Homo sapiens: one gene and its partners. The protein of the gene in region 4 purifies or fractionates together with the protein of the main gene of each other region. This does not show direct contact. Each region holds a gene or a part of one and is shown on either strand. Other genes may lie near its edges. The genes, in order: ARHGEF7, OPA3, GIT2 and TMEM154.

Region 1 (7,036 bases), on a different chromosome or scaffold from region 4:
AACCAGCTTCCAGTTTTGTTTTCTCTAGTAATTTTAAAGTACTCAGAAGAAGAGATATGAAACCCAGGGCATAGGACATGGATATTCATTCATATATTCTCACTCTCTCTCTTTTTCTCATCATGGAAAGATTCCAGGTCCAAAGCAGTACAGTAAAATTATTTCAGCCTCACTTCTCTTGAAAAAAAATCCCTCCAAAACAGCCAGGAGAACAAGAAACACAAGCATCATCTTCAATAAAACTAGAAGACACCTGGTTGGGCGCACTGGCTCACACCTGTAATCCCAGCACTTTGGGAGGCCGAGGTAGGCAGATCACGTGAGGTTAGGAGTTTGAGACCAGCCTGGCCAACATGGTGAAACCCTGTCTCTACTAAAAATACAAAAATTAGCCGGGCATGGTGGCGCACACCTGTAGCCTCAGCTACTCGAGAGGCGGGGGCAAGAGAATCACTTGAACCCGGGAGGCGGCCGTTGGAGTGAGCCGAGATCGTGCCATTGGACTCCAGCTTGGGTGACAGAGTGAGATTCTGTCTAAAAAACAAAACAAAACAAAAAAAACTAGAAGACACCTATCCCCAGGCCACCATTATGAAGGCAGGGAGCAGACGGAGGATGGGTGGGGCTTCAGCAGAGACTAGAAGGTCCCATCCCAGTAGCCAGTGGCAAGTGCACCCTCCCAGGTGGTAGACAAGCCACCTGTCTGAGAGTCAGATGCAGGCCTAGGGGCCCCAGCCCCATCACAGCTGGCCACCCCTCTTGCCATCCTTGCAGGGGTCCGAGGCTTATTCTCTGGGGAAAAGTGAACCAAAGAGGCCAGAACATGGAGAGGGCCAGCATGGACAGGAGCCAAGGTGAGGATGGACACTGCTCTGATAGGCAGCAGATGGAGGAGTCTCTGGAGAGACTCACGGCTGCTGGAGAAGAGACCAACAGGTTCAGACTTCTGGGCATCACCAGGCTGCCCCATGGCGAGACCTGCATGTCCCTGGGCCCCAGCAGTCACACAGGACTTCCTGGTCATTTTGAGGGCCTCACACTTGAAAGATCACATGATGTTTCAGTAAATCTCCAACATGGAAAAAAAGAATTGCATAAGAGGACTCAGAGGAAACAGAGACAGTGAATGCAGGGAAGGAAGCACCCTTCAAGGAAACTGTAATGAATGTTCACAGGAAGAGAGGAATCTTCCCAGAAACAGGAAGGGACTGACTGAAAGGGAAGAAACAGAGAGAAACCAGATAACGAGAAAAAAGAACTTTTAGAAATTAAAAAAAAAATAGCCAAAGTAGGTCAAAATAAAAAATGTTAGTAGAAAAGTTGGGAGATAAAGTCAAGGAAATGTCTTTCAGAAGGAGAAGAAACATACAAGTGGAAAGGTCAGCAAATGAGAGACTCAACCCAGCAGGCCTGGCAGCCGCAGGGGCAGGGGGCGGGGCCGGGGGGGGGGGGCGCAGCCCACCAGCCAACGATGGCCAGTTACCAGCCGCTCTGGAGCTCCGTTTCCTAATCTGAAAATGGGGGCGATCCTGTCACCACCTCCCTTATAGGGTGGTGAGGAGGGTTAAATCCATTATTATGGGCAAAGTCCTTAGAACAGTGCCTGGCATACAGTATGCACTCAATAGATATTATCTCTGATTAGTCTTAATAAGATTTCTAAAAAATGAGAATAGAGAAAATACTAGAGAGGAAATTATCAAGGAAATAAAGGATATAGAGGGTATTTTAAACAAAGGTACAAGCACTCTTGTGATTGGGATGGACTGTATTTACATATATCGGCATGTCCCCTAGTTAAGAATGGCACGGGCATGTATGTGTGTGTGTGTGATTTGTTATCTATGGCCATGGTAAACCTCAGTGGCTGGCTTGAGTCAGCCTGGTCCGGGCCTGCTGGTGCAGCTGTGCCTGCTCTGGGCAGGGCAGGCAGCTTGCTGACCCTGGCTGGGCTCTCTTCAATGTTTGAGGTTGGCTGGCTGTGGATAGGTCCAGGATGGCCTAGCAGGGACAACTGAGTTCTCCTCCATGTGATCACACCCCACCAGCACCCAAGCCCTGGGGTCTCCTCGGAGGTAGACACAGGGCCTGAGAGAGTGCAGAAAAGTGCAAGCCTTTCCAAGGCCTGGGCTAGGAACTAACACTGGCCACTTCTGCCACAGTCCATTGGCCAAAACAAGTCACAGCTCAGATTCAAGAAGTGAGGAAGCAGACTCCTACCTCTTGATGGAGGCGCTACAAGGTCACTTTGCCAGGGGCATGGGAGGGTTGGAGAATTGGGGCCACTTCTATCGTCTACCCCAACCCTTCTCCACTCTGCTTTGTGTCCTGGGAGGCTGACCTCTATACACAGTATCCCAGGGCCGCCTCCCAGCACAGGCCTTGGAGCCATTTGCTTAGACTACAGTGTGAACGGTTCTCCCAAGACCGGGCAGTACACAGCTTACACAACCACATGCAGGTGCCCTCAGTGAAGCCATCTGCAAAAGGAGGCGTCTGGGCTGGATGACTCTACATTCCTTCATCCTGAGAACTCACAAATACTTTATACCCAAGATCCTAGCATTTCTCTTCTGACCTGCCTGAAGAGGTGGTATGGCTGGCATCCATGCGTGCGCTTCCATGCGTGTGATTGGGTCACTAGCACGCACACAATAGGAACCTGGTAAAAGGGATGATTAAATGAATTCACATACATGTGTTTGAAATACACTGTGCACACATTCCATTTCAGTTCCCCTCACCGCCTCGCCTTGAGACCCCAGCAGACATGACACCATCCTGCAAAAACAGAGTTGAGAACTGCCAGCCTGGTGCATCAAACCTTAAAAATTCAAAGCTAAAGTTAGAAATATAAAAACATCAAGAGATTAATTCTCCTACCCTAACTTGACAGAACTGATAAAGGAGGGAGAAGTCAGAAGCTGTACCCGGGAAGCAGTCGGACCGGGGCGGCCCCAAAGCCCTCTCTCTGCAGACACCAGGTGGGGCAGGCTGGCCCTCACTTCCCATCTCTGACTCCCGGCCCTGCTGATGCATGAAACTTTATATAAGCGAAACCTGAGTCCACCCGCTCAGCCCTCCCGCTCCCCAACCAGCAGCTGTGTGCACTCAGCAGCTGCGCCCAGATCTGGCGCTGACCAGAGGGCCCTGGAAGCCACGTTCAGCAGGCCCACCAACCCAGACAATGGTGGTCTGTCCAGAGTGGGATGCAGAGGCTGCCAGCCCCCGAAAGTTGCAAGAGTCTGCCCTGTTGTGAGAATTAACCCGTGTTCCTGGATTTGGATGGCTCTGAGGTTCAAATCTTGGCTTACAGTCTTCTGGACACGATGGGGAAGGTTTTCAGTGTCAATCAACAAAACAGTAACTACTGCGTACTGAGGAATGACTTTGTGCCCAGCACATCTACTCATTTACCCTGGTAATGACCTCACTGCCCCCACCAGTGGATATCATTCATCTCATTTTTAGGAGGAAGAAACTAGGACTCCGAGAGGTTAGACAGGTGCCGGAAGTCACAGAGCAAATGGCTGCGGGAACAAAGCCAGGTGTGCCTGACTCTGAAGCACGCAGAGGACCGGGTCTCCCAGTGTCTCCAGGCAGGGACCCGTGGGTTCGGGGGATGCCAGTCCTCCCATCTCCCAGCGATGCACGTGGTAGAGTTGCGTGCCCAAAGGGATGATGTGCCTCTGCCACCTCCCTCGTGCAGTGAGAGACGCGTGGGCGTCAAGCCTACACAAGACTCCAATCCAAACGGCTAAAATCCACCCTACACAAGAACAAACGGCTCTGCCCCCACTCACCTCACAGCCCCCATCGCCTCCACTCTTTACATTTTAGAGTGATCAGTGGCCTCTAAAGGGAGAGAGATGTTCGTGTGTACATAGTACTTGAATTTTAAAAGTGTGTGTGGTGTAGATGCACACAGTTTGAAATCTTGGACTAAGTGGAAATCTGGTAAGCCCTACAGAGTAGGGAAGCCCAGAAACTACAGTGAGTTATTGGATGGTACAGGAACACGGAACACACGTTCTGCGGCCGGGGAGAAAGGCCCAGACACAGACTTCTGCAGGAGCTTCTGCAGGTTCCCCCAGGGCAAGGGGCCCTACCCTGGGTGCCTTTGGGGTCTGTCTACTGAAGGGCAGAGCTGCTTCCAGATGTCCCGAGAAGTGAGACACCTGCAGTGGCTCCAGGCACTCCTGAGGGCTCCCACTCTGCCCCTGTGGCCGGTGACCTGAGCCAGCCCCTCCAGTCCTCACTTTTGTCCCCCCTGGGTGCTCAGTTACACTGCTGCCTCCGTCTCCTTTCCTGATCTGGTTTGTAAATTTCTGAAGGCAGTGGTTGCGAATCTTCCCCTAAGTTCAGTATAGGTGGCAGAATCAGTCTTGTTTTCCATGAGAAAGCTCACAGTCTTGAGCTGGAATCTTCCGCCTCCGAGTGCAGCCAGATGACCTGGGGCAAAGCTAACTGCCAGACCTCAGGGTCCTCATCTGCAGTATGGGTATTGCGAGGGACAGCGCCTGCAAACGAGAGGAGCATGCTGCCTGCCATGCTGGGCAGACATCTTATTCTCTTTTAAGATGTATAGAAAGGCAGGCAGTGCCTAAAGAAAGGAGGCGAGCAGGCAGATTCTGGAGTGACTTCTATTAATAGAATGAGGGCCGGGTCCTGAGATGGCATCCTTTGGACTGGGCTTGGAGAGTTCACAGAGCAGCTGCCCCTGAGAAAATGGAATGCCACATGTGCCAGCACTCCTTCCCCCACTCCCTCAACCCCCGTCAGACGTGTCTGTGTGTGCGTGTGTGCGTGTCTATGTACACGCATGTGTCTGTGTGTGTGTGTATTTACATGCATGTGTTTACGTATGTGCATGTTTGTGCAGGCATGCATGCGTGTGTGCATAAGTTCGTGTGTGCACATGCATGTGCAAGTGTGCATGTATGCGTGTGTGTATGCTTGTGTGTGTGCTCTCCTGTGTCTGTGTGATGCCAACATAAACACTAGTTTCTAGTCTGGTTCTCAGGAAATCTCTTCAGGCACTCCTGATTTAAATTGAATTTCAGTTTGTTTGCTTTCTTTTTAGTGAGCCAGCAAATGCAGTTCCAGCTACCTTCTTCCCTAGGCCTGAAACCCAAACAAGAATCACACTGGTTCAGGGTTGAGACAGGACTATAAAGTCACATGCTTCAAAAGGAAATGTTTATTATTGCAAAATTCACTATTCTGGAACCATATTCAGGGTAGTTTAGTTAGAAGCAACTTGATATAACCAGTTATTCAGTTTGCAGGGTTTAAAGAAGTCTCCTTAAAAACACAGTCTGGAGATACCATATTATAACTTCTCTATAAGTGACTTAGCCAATCAACAAGTCTTTATGACGGCTACAGGTCACGGGCCTGAGTGAGAACCTTACCCTACCACCACATGTGATCACTCATCACGTTCTTTTTAGGGCCAAAGGACCTAAGAAAAGGCACATTTCTAGCAGGTGAGCACTTCTGCTTCTCCTCACCCCAGCCCCTAACCAACCCCAGAATCCTGACACTGAGCAGAAAGTGAGTCTCCAGTTTACCTAGAAAAAAGTATTTCCTTTTTTCCTATGCAACATCAGATTTGCTGATTTTCTGCAAGCCTGTGGAAAATCACCTAGGGCTGCCAGGTTACAGTTTGGGAAATGCAAACCATATTCTTACCCACACGTCAGCAAAGTCTTGGGTCTGACCTGCTCAAATGCTGGTCTTTTTAGCTCCTTGATTCTTTTGCTCCTTCTCATCCATATCTGACATTACGACTCTTGACTTCCTTCTGCCTCATGCTGTTCTTGTCTTTCGAGTTACATTTTCTGTACTGGAACCCCCAAGACTCTATTATTTAGGTTTTGCAATCTCCCCTAGCACCTGGCATTGTGCAATCAGATCAATAGCTAATAAACTGATCTGGTTCAAATGTAGAAACAACCTGTCATGAGCTGAACTGTGCTCCTCCAGCATTCGTATTTTGAAGTCCTAACCCCCAGTATCTCAGGATGGGGCCTTATTCAGAAATGAAGTTAATGCAGATGTAATCGGTTAAGATGAGGCCATACTGGGGTAGGGTGCCCCTAATGCAATTCCACTGATGTCCTGCTAAAAAGGAGGAATTTGGACACAGAGAAGAAACCACAGCACGGACATCATGTGAAGATTGGACTTGTGTTGCCACAAGCCAGGAACTACCAGAAGCCTGAGAGTGGCCTGGGACAGACCCCTCCTTGGAGCCTTCTGAGGGCACGAGGCCCTGCAGGTACCTTAATCCCAGACTTTGGGCCTCCAGAGCTGAGAGACAAATGCCTCCACATCCAGCACTAAGACCCGAGGCAGCGTCTGATTTTCAATTACATTCCACAAACACCTAGCCAGGGTTCTCGGGAGCACATCACATGGATTACACAGGAAGGTTCTCTGTGTTCTGTTCTCCTGGGACACACAGAGAAAGAACCAAGTTCCTTGAGTTTTTTATAGTGAGTTAAGAGACTTCATTTGTTGCATTCACAAGTGAAATTAAAAGAGCATTTCATGATTTCCATGATTTTAATGTGTTGTATTAGTCTTATAGAAATTTTCCATCCTCTACAATTCATGTATCTTGATTTCACCTCCTTTGACTAAATACCCTAGGGATGTTTAAAGTGAATTTGTGAGAAAAGGGCTTCCAGGGCTCCCTAGACGTCATGACCTCTGCTCACGGGAGGAGTGTGGGAAGCCGAAGACATGGGCAGCCCAGCCAAACATCCTGACCCCTCCTGGAGAAAACCAAAGTGCAGGATCTCCAGATACAGAGAAGGCGAAAACTTTTTAATCCCATTTTCCTCTCCCCTACAGCAGAAAACATCTGTCCAGTATAATGAAAAGTGTCTCTTTTCTGAACTGTTCATGTAAAGTTTATAATTCCATCTTCTCACTGTCTAACCTTCCACCTTAAAAGCAAAGCGGGAACCTGGGTGGAAAGTTTCCTTTAAATGAGCAGAAGAATCTGACACGCCGTGAACGTCCTCTC
Region 2 (7,294 bases), on a different chromosome or scaffold from region 4:
TCAGTAGAGGATGAAGGTGATTTGACTTAAGTATTAACAGTATCCCACGGGCTGTTGAGTGGGGAGTAGAATATGGGAGATTGGCTGGGCACAGTGGCTCAAGCCTGTAATCCCAGCACTTTGGGAGGCTGAGGCAGGAGGACTGCTTGAGGCCAGGAGTTTGGGACCAGCCTAGGCAACATAGGGAGACCCAGTTTCTACAGAAATTTTAAAAATTAGCCGGGCATGGTGGTATGTGTCTGTAGTCCCAGCTACTTGGTAGGCTGAGACCGGAGGATCACTTGAGCCAGGAGGTGGAGGCTGTGATGAGCAGTGATTGCACCACTGCACTCCAGCCTGGGCGACAGAGCGAGACCCTGTCTCAAAATAAAAAAGGAATATGGGAGACAAGGATAGAAGTCAGGAGCCCAGTGAGGAGGTGACTGCAGGAGTCCAAGAGGGAGGTGCTGTCAGTTGGGCCGGGTGGGTGGTGGTTGTGGATTTAACAAGGAGCAGTGATCAGCTTTTGGAGTTTTATTTTTGTTTGTTTATTTATTTATTTTGAGACAGAATCTCGCTCTGTTGCCCAAGCTGGAGTACAGTGTCAGGATCTCGGCTCACTGCAACCTCCGCCTCCTGGGATCAGGCAACTCTTGTGCCTCAGCTTCCTGAGTAGCTGGGATTACAGGCATGCACCACCACGCCTGGCTAATTTTTGTATTTTTAGTAGAGACGGGGTTTCTCCATGTTGGCCAGGCTGATCTTGAAATCCTGGCCTCAAGTGATCCTCCCACCTCAGCCTCTCAAAGTGCTGGGATTACAGGCTTGAGCCACCGTGCCCAGCCTTGGATTTATTTTAATGGAAGAAGCACAGGGGCCAGAGGGATTATGAAACACGAGTACCTCACTCATTCCAGGAAAAGGGTGACTAGGGGCTGTGAGCAGAAAAAACTTCCAGGAAGGATCCCAGGCCCTAGTCTAGGGCGGTCACCAGAGAGGCCAGGCAACCAGTCCAAGGTCCCATGGCTGGTGAGTCAGCGCTGGAGCCATCTTGGGTTCCCTCTCCCCTCCCCATCTCTGCTTGTGTTCCCATGCCCCAGGATGGCCAAGGCTGCCCTCCCTCCCCTGGTCTCAGGGGTCACCAGGAATGGCCACTGTTCCATGACCAGGCTGGAGAGCAGGAAGAAGCACCCAGCTCTGAAAAGGCCTCACCCTTCAGAGAAGGTCTCCTCTCCTCTTCCTCCTTACGGGTGTGTAAACAGACTCCTGAGGTGTGAAGATTCACTCACAACCCTCCTACCACCCCGCTCCCCCGGGCCCTCCTCTCCCTTCACAAAGGTTCCCAGAAGACTTTCCCGGGAACCCTTCTCAGAGAAAGGAAGAAGGAGGAGAGGAATAGGGGGAAAAATGCACTCAATGATTTTTCTGGGGTGGAGGGAGCACAGAGATGGCGGAAATCAGGGCTTTGGTGTTGGTGGGCTGGAGGGCTAGAGAAGAGAGGGAGGCCTGGGATCTGGGAGGCCTAGTAGTCTTCCCACCCCATCCCACTGCTGTAAAGCTATGGGAATGGAGGTGATGGGGCCAGAATTTTTCTTTTCTCTCTTTTTTTTTTTTTTGAGACTGAGTTTCGCTCTTGGTTGCCCAGGCTGGAGTGCAATGGCGCGATCTCGGCTCACCGCAACTTCCGCCTCCTGGGTTCAAGCAATTCTCCTGCCTCAGCCTCCCGAGTAGCTGGAATTACAGGCATGTGCCACCACGCTCTGCTAATTTTGTATTTTTAGTAGAGACGGGGTTTCTCCATGTTGGCCAGACTGGTCTCAAACTCCTGACCTCAGGTGATCCACCCGCCTCGGCCTCCCAAAGTGCTGGGATTACAGGCGTGAGCCACCGTGCCTGGCCAATTTTTTTTTTTTTTGAGATGGAGTCTCACTCTGTTGCCTAGGCTGGAGTGCAGTGGCGCCATCTCGGCTCACTGCAAGCTCCGCCTCCTGGGTTCACGCCATTCTCCTGCCTCAGCCTCCCGAGTAGCTGGGACTACAGGCGCCCGCCACCACGCCCGGTTAATTTTTTGTATTTTTTTAGTAGAGACGGGGTTTCACCGTGTTAGCCAGGATGGTCTCGATCTCCTGACCTCATGATCTGCCCACCTCAGCCTACCAAAGTGCTGGGCGTCAGCCACCACGCCCGGCCAATTTTTTTTGTTTTGTTTTGAAACAGAGCCTCGCTCTGTCACCCAGGCTGGAGTGCATTGGCACGATCTCGGCTCACTACAACCTCCGCCTCCCGAGATCAAGTGATTCTCCTGTCTCAGCCTCTGGAGTAGCTGGGATTACAGGTGTGCGCCACCACGCCCAGCGAATTTTTTGTATTTTTAGTAGAGATGGGGTTTCATCGTGTTGGCCAGGCTTGTCTCGAACTCCTGACCTCACATGATCCGCCTACCTGTGCCTCCCAAAGTGCTGGGATTACAGGCGTGAGCCACTGCGCCCGGCCTGGGGACAGAAATTTTATGTTTTTTGAGACAGGGTCTTGTTGTGTTGCCTAGGCTGGAGTGCAGTGGAGCTCATGGCTCACCACAGCTTCAACCTCCCAGGCTCAAACGATCTGTAAAATGGGAAGGGGGCTGGTCCCAAATGGATGATGGACCTTAGGTAGTCCCAAGTTTCTGCATACCTTCCGTGTGGAAGGGACCCTGGAAAAGGTTGTTTTTATGGAATCCTGGCATTCTTAGTAATTCAGAATATCAGGGTTCACACACACACCAGCACCATCAGTAAAGATGAGGAAACGCAGGTCCCTCAGTGCCAGGAGCTTGACAAAGGACACTCAGAGAGTCAGACTGGATACCAAAGAAGTCCAGAGCCCCCTGATTCTGTGTCCTGAATGTATGTTTCCTCCTACACACCACTCCTCTGTTCCTGTTTTCCTTTTTTTTTTTTTTTTTTTTTTGAGACGGAGTCTCGCTCTGTCGCCAAGACTGGAGTGCAGCGGCGTGATCTCGGCTCACTGCAACCTCTACCTCCCAGGTTCAAGCGATTCTCCTGCCTCAGCCTCCAGAGTACCTGGGATTACAGGTGCCCGCCACCATGCCCGGCTAAATTTTTTTTTTTTTTTAGTGGAGATGGGATTTCACGATGTTAGCCAGGTTGGTCTCAAACTCCTGACCTCAGGTGATCCACCCTCCTCAGCCTCCCAAAGTGCTGGGATTACAGGCGTGAGCCATGGCGGCCAGTCCTCTGTTCCTGTTTTCTTCTGTCCCTCTGCCTCCGAGAATCTCTCAATTACCCATCAGCACTCCATCATCCAGGAATTTCTCTCAACCCCTTCCTGACATTGTTTATATGATTTTACTCCCTGCTGGGTAAGAAAGGACAGTCTGGGACATGTCCTTAAATTTATTTCTGAACTAGCTCCCTGGGGAACCTACCTCCTAATGAAGGAAGTTGGGTTGCTTGAGAACGGGTATGGTTTTATTGGCCAAGATGCCAGGCTATCAACCTCTGCAGGAACCTTGTGCCACCCCCTGCCCTGCTCTGGGCCTCAGTTTCCTTGTCAGTTACTTGGGAAAGGGTTGGATTCGCTGCTTCTGGGGGTGAAATGCACCCTCAGGCTGGATTTAGCATTAATAATGCAATCATGACCTGTATAGTAAGAAGGGCTATTTACTGAGCGCTTAACTATATGAATGGCACCATTCTAACCACTTCCCATGGTCCACTGTTTTACACTCAAGATTAGCATAGAAGCCTCACAACAACCCAAAGAGGCAACTGCTATTAGGATTCCCATTTGGTAGACGGTAATACTGAAGTCCAGAGAGGTTATGCCACTCATCTAATATTACACAGCGAGGAAATGGCAGAGCTGGGATCCCAGCCAAAGTCTGTATGACCGCGCGGCTTCCTCTTAATCCCAATGAGAGCCCTAGCTTGCAGAGGAAGGTGTATTTGGGGCTCATAGGACTAATTAGGACTAATTAAGAGCCTCCTTTGGGTGGGGACGCCAACTCGGAACGTGACATCACGAAGGAGTACAGTGACGTTGGCCAAGGCGGGCGTGGGAATCCACACGCCTTCCAGCATCCGTTTAACGGCACCGCCCCCTGACCCGCCTCACTTCCGTGTATATTTGCATATTCAGCGAACGGACGTCGCTACGCCAGCGTCGACGGGGTGACGTCAGGATGCGCCTCTGAAGTTTCCCTCGAGCGTACGTACATACGTACTGACGCACGCATGGCCACGAGAGGGCGGGGGAGGAGTGAAGAGGTTGAGGCGCCCCGCCCAGTCAGCAAGGTTGCGCGTGCCCTGTGAGACCGCCAAGATGGTGGTGGGCGCGTTCCCTATGGCGAAGCTGCTATACTTGGGCATCCGGCAGGTCAGCAAGCCGCTTGCCAACCGTATTAAGGAGGCCGCCCGCCGAAGCGAGTTCTTCAAGACCTATATCTGCCTCCCGCCGGCTCAACGTGAGTCTGACCCGAATTCCCTCCAACCTTTTTCCTTTCTCCAACCCCTGTCAGGTGGTTGCTTAGGGGATGGACTTCTGTCTACGACCAATCACAGCCCGAACCGGCAAAGTCCAGTGGCCAATAGTGGGGGGTTTCTGATAGAGGGGCGTACGGGTGGCCCAGTAGTGAGGGCGGGGCGGGGCGTAAGGGGCGGGTCAAGGAGCCACCACGCGAGTAGGAAATGCCAGCCGATAAAGGAAGAGAGCGCTTGGAGACTGATGCCCTGTTAAACCAATAGTGTGAGAGATGGGAGAAATTTGGACGGGGCTTTCCAGGATAGAGGAGCTAGGGGAGGGGCTGAGGAGAAACCGGACGGGGTCCTTTGCCCGGCTGTCCTTGGGCAACTTCATTTCAAAAGCGGCACCGTGTGCCTCAGTTTCCCCACTGATCTAGGAGGTGCTTGTATATCCTCCGTTTAGGACGTCGACGTGCCTCAGTTTTACTGTAGTCAATAAGTCTGGATTAGGGGCATGGTTCGGGGGTGAAGTCTGGGTTCTGGAGACATGGCCTGGGAATCCGGAAAAGGACTTTGAGCCAGAGAGGACATTCATCTGTGTACTCATTAATGCGCTCATACGCCGTCCTTTCATTCGGTTGACAGACTATGCGGCCTTTTTGCTCAGCACTGGGAGATATACTCCTGATCCATCACTGTCAACCCAGAGTGGTCGGGAAAGTGGGAGCCCCGGAGCTCAGAGGAACTGGCTGACCCAGGGACCTGAGGCCAGCAGGGCTGCCTAGAGGGGGCCGCCCGAGCTCAGATCTAAAGGGCATAGTAAGGTCCGGCGCGGTGGCTCACACCTGTAATACCAGCACTTTGGGAGGCCGAGGCGGGCGGATCACATGAGGCCAGGAGTTCGAGACCAGCCTGGCCAACATAGTGAAACCCGGTCTGTACTAAAAATACAAAAATTAGCTGGGTGTGGTGGCGCACACCTGTAATCCCAGCTACTTGGGAGGCTGAGGCAGGGGAATCGCTTGAACCTGGTAGGTGGAGGCTGCAGTGAGCCTAGATTGTGCCATTGCACTCCAGCCTGGGCGACACAGCAAGACTGTCTCAAAAAATAATAAATAGAAATAAAGGGCTTAGTAAACACCCAAAATATAAACTACTTTAAAAAGGTGATCTTGCCGGGCGCGGTGGCTCACGCCTGTAATCCCAGCACTTTGGGAGGCCGAGGTGGGCAGATCACGAGGTCAGAAGATGGAGACCATCCTGGCTAACACGGTGAAACCCCATCTCTACTAAAAATACAAAAAAATTAGCCGGGCGTGGTGGCTGGGCGCCTGTGGTCCCAGCTACTCAGGAGGCTGAGGCAGGAGAATGGCGTGAACCCGGAAGGCGGAGCTTGCAGTGAGCCGAGATCGTAACACTGTACTCCAGCCTGGGTGACGGAGCAAGACTCCGTCTCCAAAAAAAAAAAAGGTGATCTGTGTTGTGCTACGTGGGACATAAAATAAGGGAATTTAGCATCATTGGCTGGGTCAGAGAACCACTGAAACCGCCTTTGCAAAATTATGACTGACACAGCGAAAGAGATCTAAGTTAACTTACTCCATCTTGCTTCTAACCTCCAAGCTATCCTTGTTCATTCCTGGGCAAAGGCTGAACTAACTTTGGGAGAGATTTAGTTTGTAGTTTATAGTTTAAACAAACATGGTAACAGCCCTTTCCCAAAGCAGACCTCCTTCTTGTCTGGCGACTGGATTGCCTTTGTAGGACTAACATTAGCCACAAGATTAGAAATTATGGTTTAGGAGTCATGCAGCTGGAGGGTACAAGATTCTGACCCTCCCTAAACTGCTCCTAAGATCAGTGCTTGAGATATTTCACAGACCCTGCACTTGATGGATCAGCTGGCCTTACCCAGATCAATAAACTGGCCCATCTGATCTTGTGGCCCCCCAACCCAGGAACTGACTGAGCGCAAGAAGACAGCTCCGACTCCCTGTGATTTCATCTCTGACCAATCAGCACTCCTGGCTCACTGGCTTCCCCTCACCCATCAAGTTATCCTTAAAAACTCTGCTCCACCGAGATCGCACCACTACACTCCAGCCTGGGCGACAGACCGAGACTCCGTCTCAAAACAAAAACAAAAAACAAAAAAACTCTGCTCCAGCTGGGCCCATTGGCTCGCATCTGTAATCCTAGCACTTTGGAAGGCTGAGGGGGGTGGAGCACCTGAGGTCAGGAGTTTGCAACCAGCCTGGCCAGCATGGTCAAACCCCGTCTCTACTAAAAATACAAAAGTTAGGCGGGCTTGGTGGCGGGCGCCTATAATCCCAGCTACTCGGGAGGCTGGAGCATGAGAATCGCTTGAACCCGGGGATGGAGGTTGCAGTGAGCCAAGATCGCGTCACTTCATTCCAGCCCAGGCGAAAGAGTGAAAATCCATCTCAAAAAAAAAAAATAAAATAAAATAAAAATAAAATCTCCCTGAATGCTCAGGGAGACTGATTTGAGTAATGGTAAGACTCCTGGCTGGGGCGCGGTGGCTCACGTCTGTAATTCCAGCACTTTGGGAGGCCGAGGTGGGTGGATCATGAGGTCAGGAGTTCGAGACCAGCCTGACCAACATGGTGAAAACCCGTGTCTACTGAAAATACAAAAATTAGCTGGGTGTGGTGGCGCACATCTGTAATCTCATCTACTCAGGAGGCTGAGGCAGGAGAATTGCTTGAACCTAGGAGGTAGAGGTTGCAGTGATCCGAGATTGCACCACTGCCCTCCAGTCTGGGCAACAGAGCAAGACTGTCTCAATCTCAAACAAACAAACAAAACACCCTCCCGCACAGCCAACTCTG
Region 3 (7,719 bases), on a different chromosome or scaffold from region 4:
TGGGAGACTTTAAAAGCAGAGTTTCTCAGCCAGGCGTGGTGGCTCACACCTGTAATCCCAGCACTTTGGGAGGCTGAGGCGGGCGGATCACCTGAGGTCGGGAGTTTGAGACCAGCCTGACCAACATGGAGAAACCCCATCTCTACTAAAAATACAAAATTAGCCGGGCGTGGTGGTGCATCCCTGTAATCTCAGTTACTTGGGGGGCTGAGGCAGAAGAATCGCTTGAACCCAGGAGGCGGAGGTTGCAGTGAGCCGAGATCGCACCATTGCACTCCAGCCCGGGCAACAAGAGCGAAACTCAGTCTCAAAAAAAAAAAAAAAAAAAGAAGGAAAGAAAGAAAAGCAGAGTTTCTCAACCAAGACGCTGTCGGCTTTGGGGGCCGGAGAAGTCTTAGTTGCGGGGGGCTGTCTTGGCCATTGTAGGATGTTGAGCAGCATAACCGGCCTCTACCCACTACCAGAAGCACCCACTCCCCACTTTCAACAACCAAAAATGTCCCATACATTGCCAAATGTCCCCGGGGGGTCGTGGGTGCAAAATCACCTCCAACTGAGAGCACTACTGCTTTAAAGAGATAGCAATAATGAAAAGATTAAAGCATCAAAGCACTTTAGAACAGGAAGGGATTTTAAGGAGCCTGAGAACCCGTGATTCTCAAACTTTGCTAGGTATCAGCCTCCCTGGGGAGTTTGTTAAAAATGCGGCACCTGGACCTCACCCCAGACCTATCAATAGAGTCAAGTGTTGGGTTCTGCCCCAGCACCAACATCCTCATTCTACAGCTAAGTTAACGTCGGCCAGAGAGGGAAAATGCCTTGCCCAAGGTCACAGGGCGAGTTAGAACCTGGACTCCAAAACCAACCAAGCCCTTCCTTACAACAAGGAGAGTGTGCTATTCTTACGTCTTTGAGGCAGCAGAACCTAAAAATGGTTAAGACGGTGCATTCCGGAGCCAGCCGGCCCGAGTTAAAATCCCGACTTGGCATTTATCAGCGGGGCGGCCTCGCACAAGGCACGTAGCGTCTGAGGACCTGTTTCCTTCTCTGTCCAGTGGAAAAGTAACAGTACCTACCCACCAGCGTTATTGGAAAGGTGAAGAGAGAAGATATTTAAAAAGCCCGTCGCACGGTAAGCACTCGATACGTGTCCTATTATTAGGACTGTCCCACACCTGCAAAGTGGAAGGGGTCTGGGGATCCCGGGGACAGAGGGCTGGAAATGGGCTCAGGGAGGCGAAACGACCCCCGATTCCCCGAAGTCCCCACCGGGAGACGGACCCCCGCCCCGCCCCTCACCTGGCCCTGCAGCTCCTTCTCGAGCTGCCGGTAGTCGTTTTTCCAGACTAGGAGGTGCAGGGGGTAGTGGTCGCCCGCGTCGCAGGCCGAGGACATGGCGAGGAGGCCGTAACCTGGTCCTCGTCGCCCGCCCCAAGTCTCGGCCCCGGCGGGGTCTCCCGCGCCCGCCTGCCTGCCCTGAGGCCGGCGAGCAAGCGAGCGTAGGGCGTGTTACGCTGCCGGCCGGCTGAGCCGGTCGGGTGCGGGGCGCGCGGGAGGTCCGGGGTCGCCGGCCGGCTCAGGGACCAGGTCGGCCGCGCCCACCCCGCGCCCCGCGGCGTTCCCGCCCGCGCTGACAGCTCGCGGACAGACTTCTGCGGACCTAACTGCCCCAAACAGGGAAGTGCGGAGAGCGAACCACCGCATGCCGCGGCGGGGATAGGCGACCTTGGGCACCGGGTCCGGGGTCCGCGCCATTGCACCCACCTCCAGCTCACACCGAGAAACTCAGTGCAGCCCACAGAACAGAGCTGAGGCTCATTCTCTTGGCCAAAGATCTCCACGCGGAAAGTTCCGTCTACCTGTCCCCAGCTTCTTTCCCCCTGCTCCAGTAGCCCCATGTGGTTCGGTCCACAACTGGGCCTCTTCCATTGGCTCTGAAGTCAGGGGGTGACAACTGAGCCCCGGACCAAACCATTCCAGCTGCCGACACCCTTGCAGCCTTTTTGGAGCAGGACAGATGCTTCCACGACGGGTCAAAAGCCATTTTGGAAGTGGGCAACACCGGACAATTTTTGAAGGAGGAACGCTAAACCCTGGCGAAGTGGCTTCAAATACAGTATTTGCATAAAAGGGGATATTTCTACTTCATGATTTCTCAACCTCGGCACATATTGAACTGGGCAGTTTTTGTGTGGGGGTTGTCCGGTCCTTGTAGGATGCTGAGCAGTTGCCCTGGTCTTTCTCCCCACTCAATGCCAGTAGCACTCCCCAAAACATGTCTCTCCAGATATTGCCAAATGTCGTCTCGGGGAGAAAAATCGTCCTCAGTTGAGAACCGCTTCTATTTGAACTCCGAACCGGGTTATGATTCAATAGCTAACTATGGTGGTGATTTAGTCCATGTATGAATGTCATTTTTAAGCTAGCTTTTTGGATTTGAGGTTATGGCTGAAAGGACTGATAAATAATATACATATTTGACCACAGTCTGCGAATATGAAGTTTATTCTTTGAGTTTCAGGCACTATGCCTCCTTGACTCAATGAAGAACCAAATCAACTTACAGCTAGCTACTCATGGGCTTGAACTTTCTGCTGCTGCTTCAGCTCAGCTGTCTACAACTAGACCACATAGCTGGATGAAGCTATTTAATGCATTGTGAAAACATTCCCTCTGCCCTCTGAGTGTATGCACATCCAGCTCTTCAGATGCCTGCAACAACAGCTGTTCAAGAATCCCAACCTAATCCATTCTCCACAGATGTGGAGCCCAGAAGATTTGTGAGTTGTTAAACCAAAACAGGATGCAGGAGCACCAGGATGGCACCCGGAGACTCTAACCATGGAATGCGTGGGAATTCTGTGATTATTTCTCCATCACACATTTATCACACTGTAGAGATGGACTCAAGACCAGTGCTTCTGAGGCCTTTTCCAGCACTTCTCATTCTTTCAGATGCCTTTTGCAACTTAACGTTCTCCTTCTTCTTCATCATGCCGTGTTTATTGAAAATCTCCCTATCTCATTAATCAGAAAACCCCATAATGACAGGAACCACATCGTTTTGCTTACCAGAGTATCTAAAACCAAAATAGTACCTGGCTAACAACAGGCATTCAATATTTGCTGAATGGAGATCATAGCTGTGTTTATATGTAAGACAGACAATAAGTAGTCATTGGTATTAGGGTCACATCTCCTTTCTCCTTCACACTGATTTACCTCATTTCATTGTGTTTATCTCACACCATTTTGTAAATTATCCCATGTTAGCTATTGTTATTCTCAAATTCCACGCATATGAAGAAAAACAGTAATTAGAAAATAATAGCAATATCCATAATTATGGGAGCTACTATTTACTGAGGGGTTACTATCCAGCAGGTGTATCACATTTTTCCCATAATTTATTCCATCTGTCCTTAGCCAAAATGAATGTTTAACTTTGCTGGTCACATACAAGTTTTGTCGCATATTCTTCTTCCTCTTTTTCTTTATTTCCCTCTCTCTCTTCTTCATTTTCATCTCGCAACCCTTTAAAAATGTAAAAATCATTCTTAAGTAGCAAGCCATACAAAAACAAATCGTGGACTAGAAGTAAACAATGCATTATCTTAATTTTGAACATGAGATTAAAACTGAAGCCTAAGGAATCATCTAATATATTCTTTTTTGTTATTTTTGTTGTTGTTGTTGAAGTTGTTTTTGAGACAGTCTCGCTCTGTCCCCCAGGCTGGAGTGCAGTGACGCGATCTCTGCTCACTGCAACGTCCACCTCCCAGGCTCAAGCGATTCTCATGCCTCAGCCTCCTGAGTATCTAGGATTACAGGCATGCGCCACCACGCCCGGCTAATTTTTTTTTTTTTTTTTTTTTTTTTGAGACGGAGTCTCACTCTGTCGCCCATGCTGGAGTGCAATGGCGTGATCTCAGCTCACTGCAACCTCCACCCCCTGGGTTCAAGCTCCTGCCTCAGCCTCCCAAGTAACTGAGATTACAGGCTCCTGCCACTGTGCCCGGCTAATTTTTGTATTTTTAGTAGAGACGGGGTTTCACCATGTTGGCCAGGCTGGTCTTGAACTCCTGACCTCGTGATCCACCCGCCTCGGCCTCCCAAAGTGCTGGGATTACAGGCGTGAGCCACCGCGCCCGGCCAATTTTTGTATTTTTAGTAGAGATGGGGTTTCACCATGTTGCCCAGGCTGGTCTCGAACTCCTGCCTCAAGTGATCCTCCTGCCTCAGCCTTCCAAAGAGTTGAGATTACAAGAGTGAGCCACCACGCCCAGCCTGGAATCATATAATATATTCTTATTTTACTTTACCCCAGTAAAATGCAAGCTTCATAAGGACTAGAAATTCAGTCTTTGCTCACTGCTGTTTCTCCAGTGGCTGGGACAGTATATAAAGCATGGTAAGTGCTTGATAAACATTTGTTGAATCAAGGAATGAATGAATGAACTTGACCATTGATTGCCTCAGGAAGGTTGTGGCTGCAGGGTTCTCATCACAAGATATTGCTACTTCCCCTGGTATTAATCAGTTGGGACGAGGGGAATCTCTGCCAGAGAAGAAGACCCAAATTCAATATTTAAAGGTAGGACAGATGATACTCGGGCAGTCTCCTGCCCTCACTCAAGATGGCGACAAGGCAGAGTGCCCTTTCCGGTCACATGACCTGACACTCGCCGAAGGGCACCTCCCCGCGCGTGCGTGCTGTGCCAAGGCTGCAAGGCGCTGAGGGGAGAGGCGCCGCCGTCAGCGCCGCCGCAGCTGGGACCCGTTAGAGCGGAAGCGCCGCCGCCACCGCCGCCTTTGCTGTCCCCCGGCCTCTAGTTCCCCGCAGGTGGGAGGTGGGAGCCATGTCGAAACGGCTCCGGAGCAGCGAGGTGTGCGCTGACTGCAGCGGGCCGGGTGAGTCGCACCGGCCGGGCCCGCTCCCCTCTGCTTTCCTGGCCCGGACCCCTACCCCGGGGCCGCCCCCTCAGGTCAGGCTGCATCCCGCGGCTAGGGTCGCAACGAAGAGGTCCCTGGGCGGCCTTGGGGTGGGAACCGTCCCGGGCCTGTCAGAGCCGGGCGGGCAGGGGGCCGCCGCCCTCCCCGTCCCTCGCGGCCCTCCCTTCCCTCTCGTTCCCTCCCGTTCCCTCCGTCCTAGGCCAACTGGGGAGGTGACGGGGGCCAGGGCTGCTCCCCCAACAGGAAGGGGCTTGGGCAATCCACAGGAAAGCCAATTACAGAAGTAAAATGTGAGCGTCCTCCCGGCTGCAGCCTCCAGAGGCTGCAGGTGTCACCTCCCACTAGACCCTTTCTCCGCCTGGGTGTCCTGCCCGGGGAGGATGACACTCCCTGAGACTCGCCAGAGGGTCCCCGTAGATGACTTCCCCGCTGCTGACATCCGACAGCTACTCTGCCCGGGAGAATTGCCAGGAGATCGGGGTCTTCCAAACACAACCAGCACTTAGGAGGCAGTGCTTGTCTCAAGTTTGAGGATCTGAACGGCCTGGGTTCAAACTAGATTTTGCTTCTGGCTGACCTTGGGCTGGTGACTTCACTTGGTCACTTGCTTGATTTCCTCATTTTTTTCAATGAGGATAATCGGGAGTATCACGCTTAGTGGTGAGGAAGATTCAATGAATACTCGTAGAATCATATCATCTAAGGCTTTTCTTTTTTGCATTATGCTGTCTACAGTAGAACTCTTGTAGTCCCTTAAAGCTATATTTGACTATCTAAATCATACGTTGATTACAACGGAAACAAACGCAAAATCACCAGCAATATAGGGGCATTGAAACGCTAAAGCCATTCCTTCATAATGATGCATAACTGTTCATACATAATATTCACATTTAGAGATCAAGTGTGTCTTAGCAATTGCAACTGAATTGTCAGGTCTCTGGATAGATTATTACATGCTGTTTTAGGTGCTTGGATGTATTGGCTTTGAGTTAATTCGAAGGTAACATGGCTTTCTTGGCACAATAGTGTCCGATAAACAATCTTAATTAAATCATTGAACACCACTGGCTTTGCAACTGTTCTGATCTTAAGCTTGTCATTTGGAAGTGGAGACCAATTGTAAATAGAACTGTGATAACTCAAACCTCATGTGGTTGTTTTATGGCCCGTACAGTGCAGGTGTTACCAGTTTCCTTTGAAGATAGGGAGGGGGTATGGAGGAGTTTAAAAAGAAGTGTTTTCTAAACCAAGTTAGTGTGAGTTATACAAACTCCATCATTTTCTCTAAAAATGTTATTTGTTCCACTTCCTTATTTTCTTGCCTATTTTCAGTTGAACTTACCGTGATGTATTTGATTCACATGTGTCTAGCTTCTAACTTCCTCTTGGAATGCATATTGTTTTGCTTCTTGATAGGGTACAGGGCAAAGCAAAATTGTTCCTCCATTGCCATCCTAAATATACTTTTGCAGCATTTTGTGCATTTCAGAACATTTTCTCTTCCATTGTATCGCTTTAGTTGTTGTCTCATACGCCTAATCTGCAGAGACTTGAGTCACTTCCTTCCTGTTTTGAATATAATTAGGCTACCTTGAAATATTCTGTGAAATTGAGCAGCTGGGAATTTGTGCTGCCTTTTCTGCACAGCCCTACTGAGAGAATTACCTGTAGGGTTAGGGACCCCTTTGAGATTCTGTTGAATGCTAAGGCCTTCTCCCCTAAAATGCACGTGAACGAATTTACCTAAGATTTGTCTGGGGGAGTCACAAACATTTTTGAAGTTCATTTGTGGTGTCCCTGGAGCCCTGGCTCCAGATGAACTTAAAGGGTTTTACCCAATCTCATTCATACAAACATTTTTATTTTACTATGTTAACATTCTAATATTCTTTCCATGGGATTCTGATCCAGGATGCTAAAGTGGTTAGTCGAATACTTGTCTTAATTAATATGTGTTAAATACTTGCTAAAAAAAGAATACTGCAAATCCTCTGAATAAGTGAAAACCAAAGCTATGCTTCAAAACAGTCTTTTTTTTTTTTTTTTTTTTTTGCCATTAGTGTCAGTACTATACTGCAGGAAGCAGTGTTGTTAATGCATCTTTGTAGAGCTCCTTCATCTGGACATTTCCAATCTCTGCTTTTTAGGATGATACAGTAATAGCGACAGAGTTATACTAAATTGAATTATTTTGATTCTGTTTTATTTTATGCAAACATTTAACCATGATCACATCTTCTTAAATATTCTACTTTTTTTTTTTTAATGAATCTGGTTCATTTCAAATACATCACACTCTGAGTTCAATTACTTGAAAACTCCATGGAGATTTTCAGTACAGTAGTAGAGTGGTCACATGAAATGTTCAATGTTTTAAGTATTTCCCATCAAAAACTTTGTCCAGTGATCATGAATTTCACGTCTAGAAAATATCTGAATACTGAGAAAATAATTTAGAAAAGATATAACAACTAACATTACTACTTTACTATGTGTGAGGTACTTCACTTATTCTCTATATCCTTACTATCCCGAGATTTGTCATTGTTCTCATTTGAACCATGGTGAAAACACTCAAGTAACTTGTCTGAGATCATTGTGCAAGAAGTGGCAGAGTTGGGGTTCAAACCCTGAACTCCTTGTCTCTAGAGCCAACCCTCTTAACCACCATACTCACTGGCTCCCAGGATTCGTCTTTGATTGAAAGCCCATAACTTTTCATTATATGGTTTGAAAGGGTTTGAATAAACTCTTAAAAAATGG
Region 4 (2,906 bases):
TCCTCCCACCCTGCTTCTCTTGCTCATGCTCTGGACGCCCCTGGAACACTGATCCTGACGTGAGTTCATGTGGCTGCTTCCTTAGAATCTTCATCTCAGTTGCCGGAAGGCAGAGGGTCTAACAGTACAAGCCAAGAGGAAGGATGGGGTTCCCTTAGGAATGGGACAGGGTGGGTTATGAACAGAAAGGCACCTTCATGCCAGGTAAAAAGCAATCAATTGGCACTTGTAACAAGATGGAGGTATTTCTGCATGGATTTCATGGAGTTAAGAGGTAAGTGGGTCTTAGCCCATTAACTGGCTTAGTTGGTCTCAGTGACATTCAGAGGTGCTGGGGAACATCTCAGGAAGGATTTACAGTGCCTCTTATTTTGTGAATCTGTCTTCCTGCCCAGAGAAGAAACAATCCTTCTCTGTGCTTGTATTATCACCTAAAATAGATGCTTTCCTCTTTTTCTTAATAAAACTTGTATTTCCTTTCTCTGTGGACCCTCCAGAGGGCAAAGAAGAGAAGCTCAGATCTGGGTTGGAAAGAGCTGCTTCGAGCATTTTAATGATCAGTTAGGCTCCATCCCCAGTTTTCCTTCACCTTCCAAATTGGGGCCACTTTCTCTCCACCTCCACTTGCTTGTTAGTTCAATTATGATCGTTCTCTGCTTCCTTCCATATTGGATTTAATGTAGCTAAAAATACAATACAATACACACAATAGGACAATATGAAATAAAGATAAAGAATGACATCAGGATCCATTAGATGGAAAGTGAGGAAAATGCAATTAAACCAGGAAACTTGGGAGAAAATGGTGATGGAAGATGAACAATACCATATTTGAGTTCTGCACTCACTGATGATAAAGACTGATTAGGTACTTAAGGAAAGATGATATGTAACTCCTAGCTCATTAAATAATTGGTTTTTCTGTTATTATGGAGCGTGCAGTAGCGCCAAGCACTTTTCAGGATACAGAGATGAGTAAGACTGATCCCTATCCTCAAGGTGCTCAGTCTAATCTGCTCCCATTTTAACCTCATGCTTTGAGAGTAGTCATACATTTCTATGTGTCTGATCCACCTACAACCCATTCAGTCCCATGGCTCATGACTCATGTAGTTGGTAAAACTAGTTCTACCACCTACTACAGACTACTGGACCAGGGGTCTATGTCCAAGCCAAAGAGCACATAGGCACTGGGATTCAGGGAGGTCAAATATCCACAATGTTCCTTGACACGAAACTACCTAATATATTTCCTCGATATTGCATGAAGACACACCAATTTGGGCAGATCACATTTTCCAACGGTGCCTGCAACAAATCCCTTATCCCACTTGCTCTTCTCATAATGTGGCTTTGACACGCCTCCAAGGACAAGTGGGGTTTATGTCCTTTCCACCTTGAACCTAGGTAGACTTTGTAACTGTCTCAAACAATAAAGTATGGCAGAAGTGATGTGATGTGATTTCTGAGTCTAAATTATAAAAATACTATGCATTTCTACTTTGCTCTCTTGGGACACTTGCTCTTGGAACTCAGCTGCCATGCTGTGAAGAAGCCCAAGGAGTCTATGGAGAGGCCCACATCATAAAAGCCAAGGCCGCTGGACCACAGGCTTGGCTGGGCTCCTATCCGACAGCCAGAACAAACTTGCCAGCCATGTGAGTCATCTGAAAGTGGGACCCCCAGATCCAGTTGAACTGCCCAGCCAATGCCGTGTGGGAGAGAGTTGAACCATTTGCACTGAGCCTCATGCAAATTGCAGATTTGTGTGAAAAATAAATTGAGTGTTGTTGTTTTAAGCTGCTAAGTTTTGAGGTGTTTAAGCAGCAATAGACTGCTGAAACACCCATCCAATCAGGTTTTCTCTCTTGGGAAGTGTGAACACTGGATGCCTCCAGGGGTGGGCCACTTGAGCTCAGGCTGAATCCCAAGCAATGCTGATTTTGCTGTTCTCCACACTCCTATATACATTCTAGGCTGGAGTATCCTGCAAGCCAGCACGACTATGGCTGTGAAGAGGCAACATGCCAGTCTGCTTGAATGTCTTTCCAATTCTAGCACTAAACACACCTGTCTCTAACTTGAGAGTCCCTGGACATGCCTCTCCACTGCAACCTTAAAGAGGATCATATGCTGTTTATGTCAGCTCTAGTAAGTGGGAACTTTATTTTTTCACCTAGTGACCAAACCTTTACCAGCACTTAGATTTTAAAACTAGGCTTTTTACTTATCACCCCTATTCTAAGCCCTGGCTTTTTTCTCAGCATGATAGACCATTACTTCTGGGCCTAGGGTCCTGCCTTCACTGCCTCTGTTCCTTCTTATCTCAGCCTGCAGCCTCTGTTACTTCTTATCTCAGGCTATGCTCACCTTAAGGCATCCTTGACAATGACTGAAACTTTTTTTTGTTTGTTTTTTTGTTGTTTTTTTTTAGACAAGGCTGGAGTACAATGGTGTGATCTCATCTCACTGTAACCTCCGCCTCCCAGGTTCAAGTGATTCTCCTGCCTCAGCCTCCTGAGTAGCTGGGATTACAGGTACATGCCACTATGCCTGGCTAATTTTTGTATTTTTAGTTGAGACGGGGGTTTCACCATGTTGGCCAGGCTGGTCTCAAACTCCTGACCTCAGGTGATCCGCCTGCCTCGGCCTCCCAAAGTGGTGGGATTACAGGTGTGAGCCACTGCACCCCGCCAAGTGATGCCTTTTAAAACACTTTCCTACGGCTAGTTATTGGGGATGCAGTGCAGTGCAGTGATTAAAAACTTGTGCTTTGGAGTTGGAAAGACATGGAACAAGGTATAAGTTCTCTAAACCTACCTCATAAGTAATTACTAGGATTAAAATGAGATGATGTATGTTTAGTGTTTAGCACCTTCTGGCCAGGGTGGCTACCTCTTCAGATA

The links.
Region 1: the proteins of TMEM154 (region 4) and ARHGEF7 purify together in Homo sapiens (co-immunoprecipitation; 2 studies listed by BioGRID and IntAct, with this or other methods). This does not show direct contact.
Region 2: the proteins of TMEM154 (region 4) and OPA3 purify together in Homo sapiens (co-immunoprecipitation; 2 studies listed by BioGRID and IntAct, with this or other methods). This does not show direct contact.
Region 3: the proteins of TMEM154 (region 4) and GIT2 purify together in Homo sapiens (co-immunoprecipitation; 2 studies listed by BioGRID and IntAct, with this or other methods). This does not show direct contact.

What each region holds. Positions count from the first base shown.
Region 1 is NC_000013.11:111,118,279-111,125,314, reverse strand, and holds part of ARHGEF7 (rho guanine nucleotide exchange factor 7), read right to left. Parts: intron 1-7,036. UniProt on the Homo sapiens protein: Acts as a RAC1 guanine nucleotide exchange factor (GEF) and can induce membrane ruffling. Functions in cell migration, attachment and cell spreading. Promotes targeting of RAC1 to focal adhesions. May function as a positive regulator of apoptosis.
Region 2 is NC_000019.10:45,581,773-45,589,066, reverse strand, and holds the start of OPA3 (optic atrophy 3 protein), read left to right. Parts: upstream 1-4,264; 5' UTR 4,265-4,302; coding exon 4,303-4,444; intron 4,445-7,294. UniProt on the Homo sapiens protein: May play some role in mitochondrial processes.
Region 3 is NC_000012.12:109,993,365-110,001,083, reverse strand, and holds the start of GIT2 (ARF GTPase-activating protein GIT2), read left to right. Parts: upstream 1-4,715; 5' UTR 4,716-4,859; coding exon 4,860-4,911; intron 4,912-7,719. Other genes in the region: ANKRD13A (ankyrin repeat domain-containing protein 13A), read right to left, coding at 1,300-1,395. UniProt on the Homo sapiens protein: GTPase-activating protein for ADP ribosylation factor family members, including ARF1.
Region 4 is NC_000004.12:152,618,106-152,621,011, forward strand, and holds the end of TMEM154 (transmembrane protein 154 precursor), read right to left. Parts: 3' UTR 523-2,906; downstream 1-522.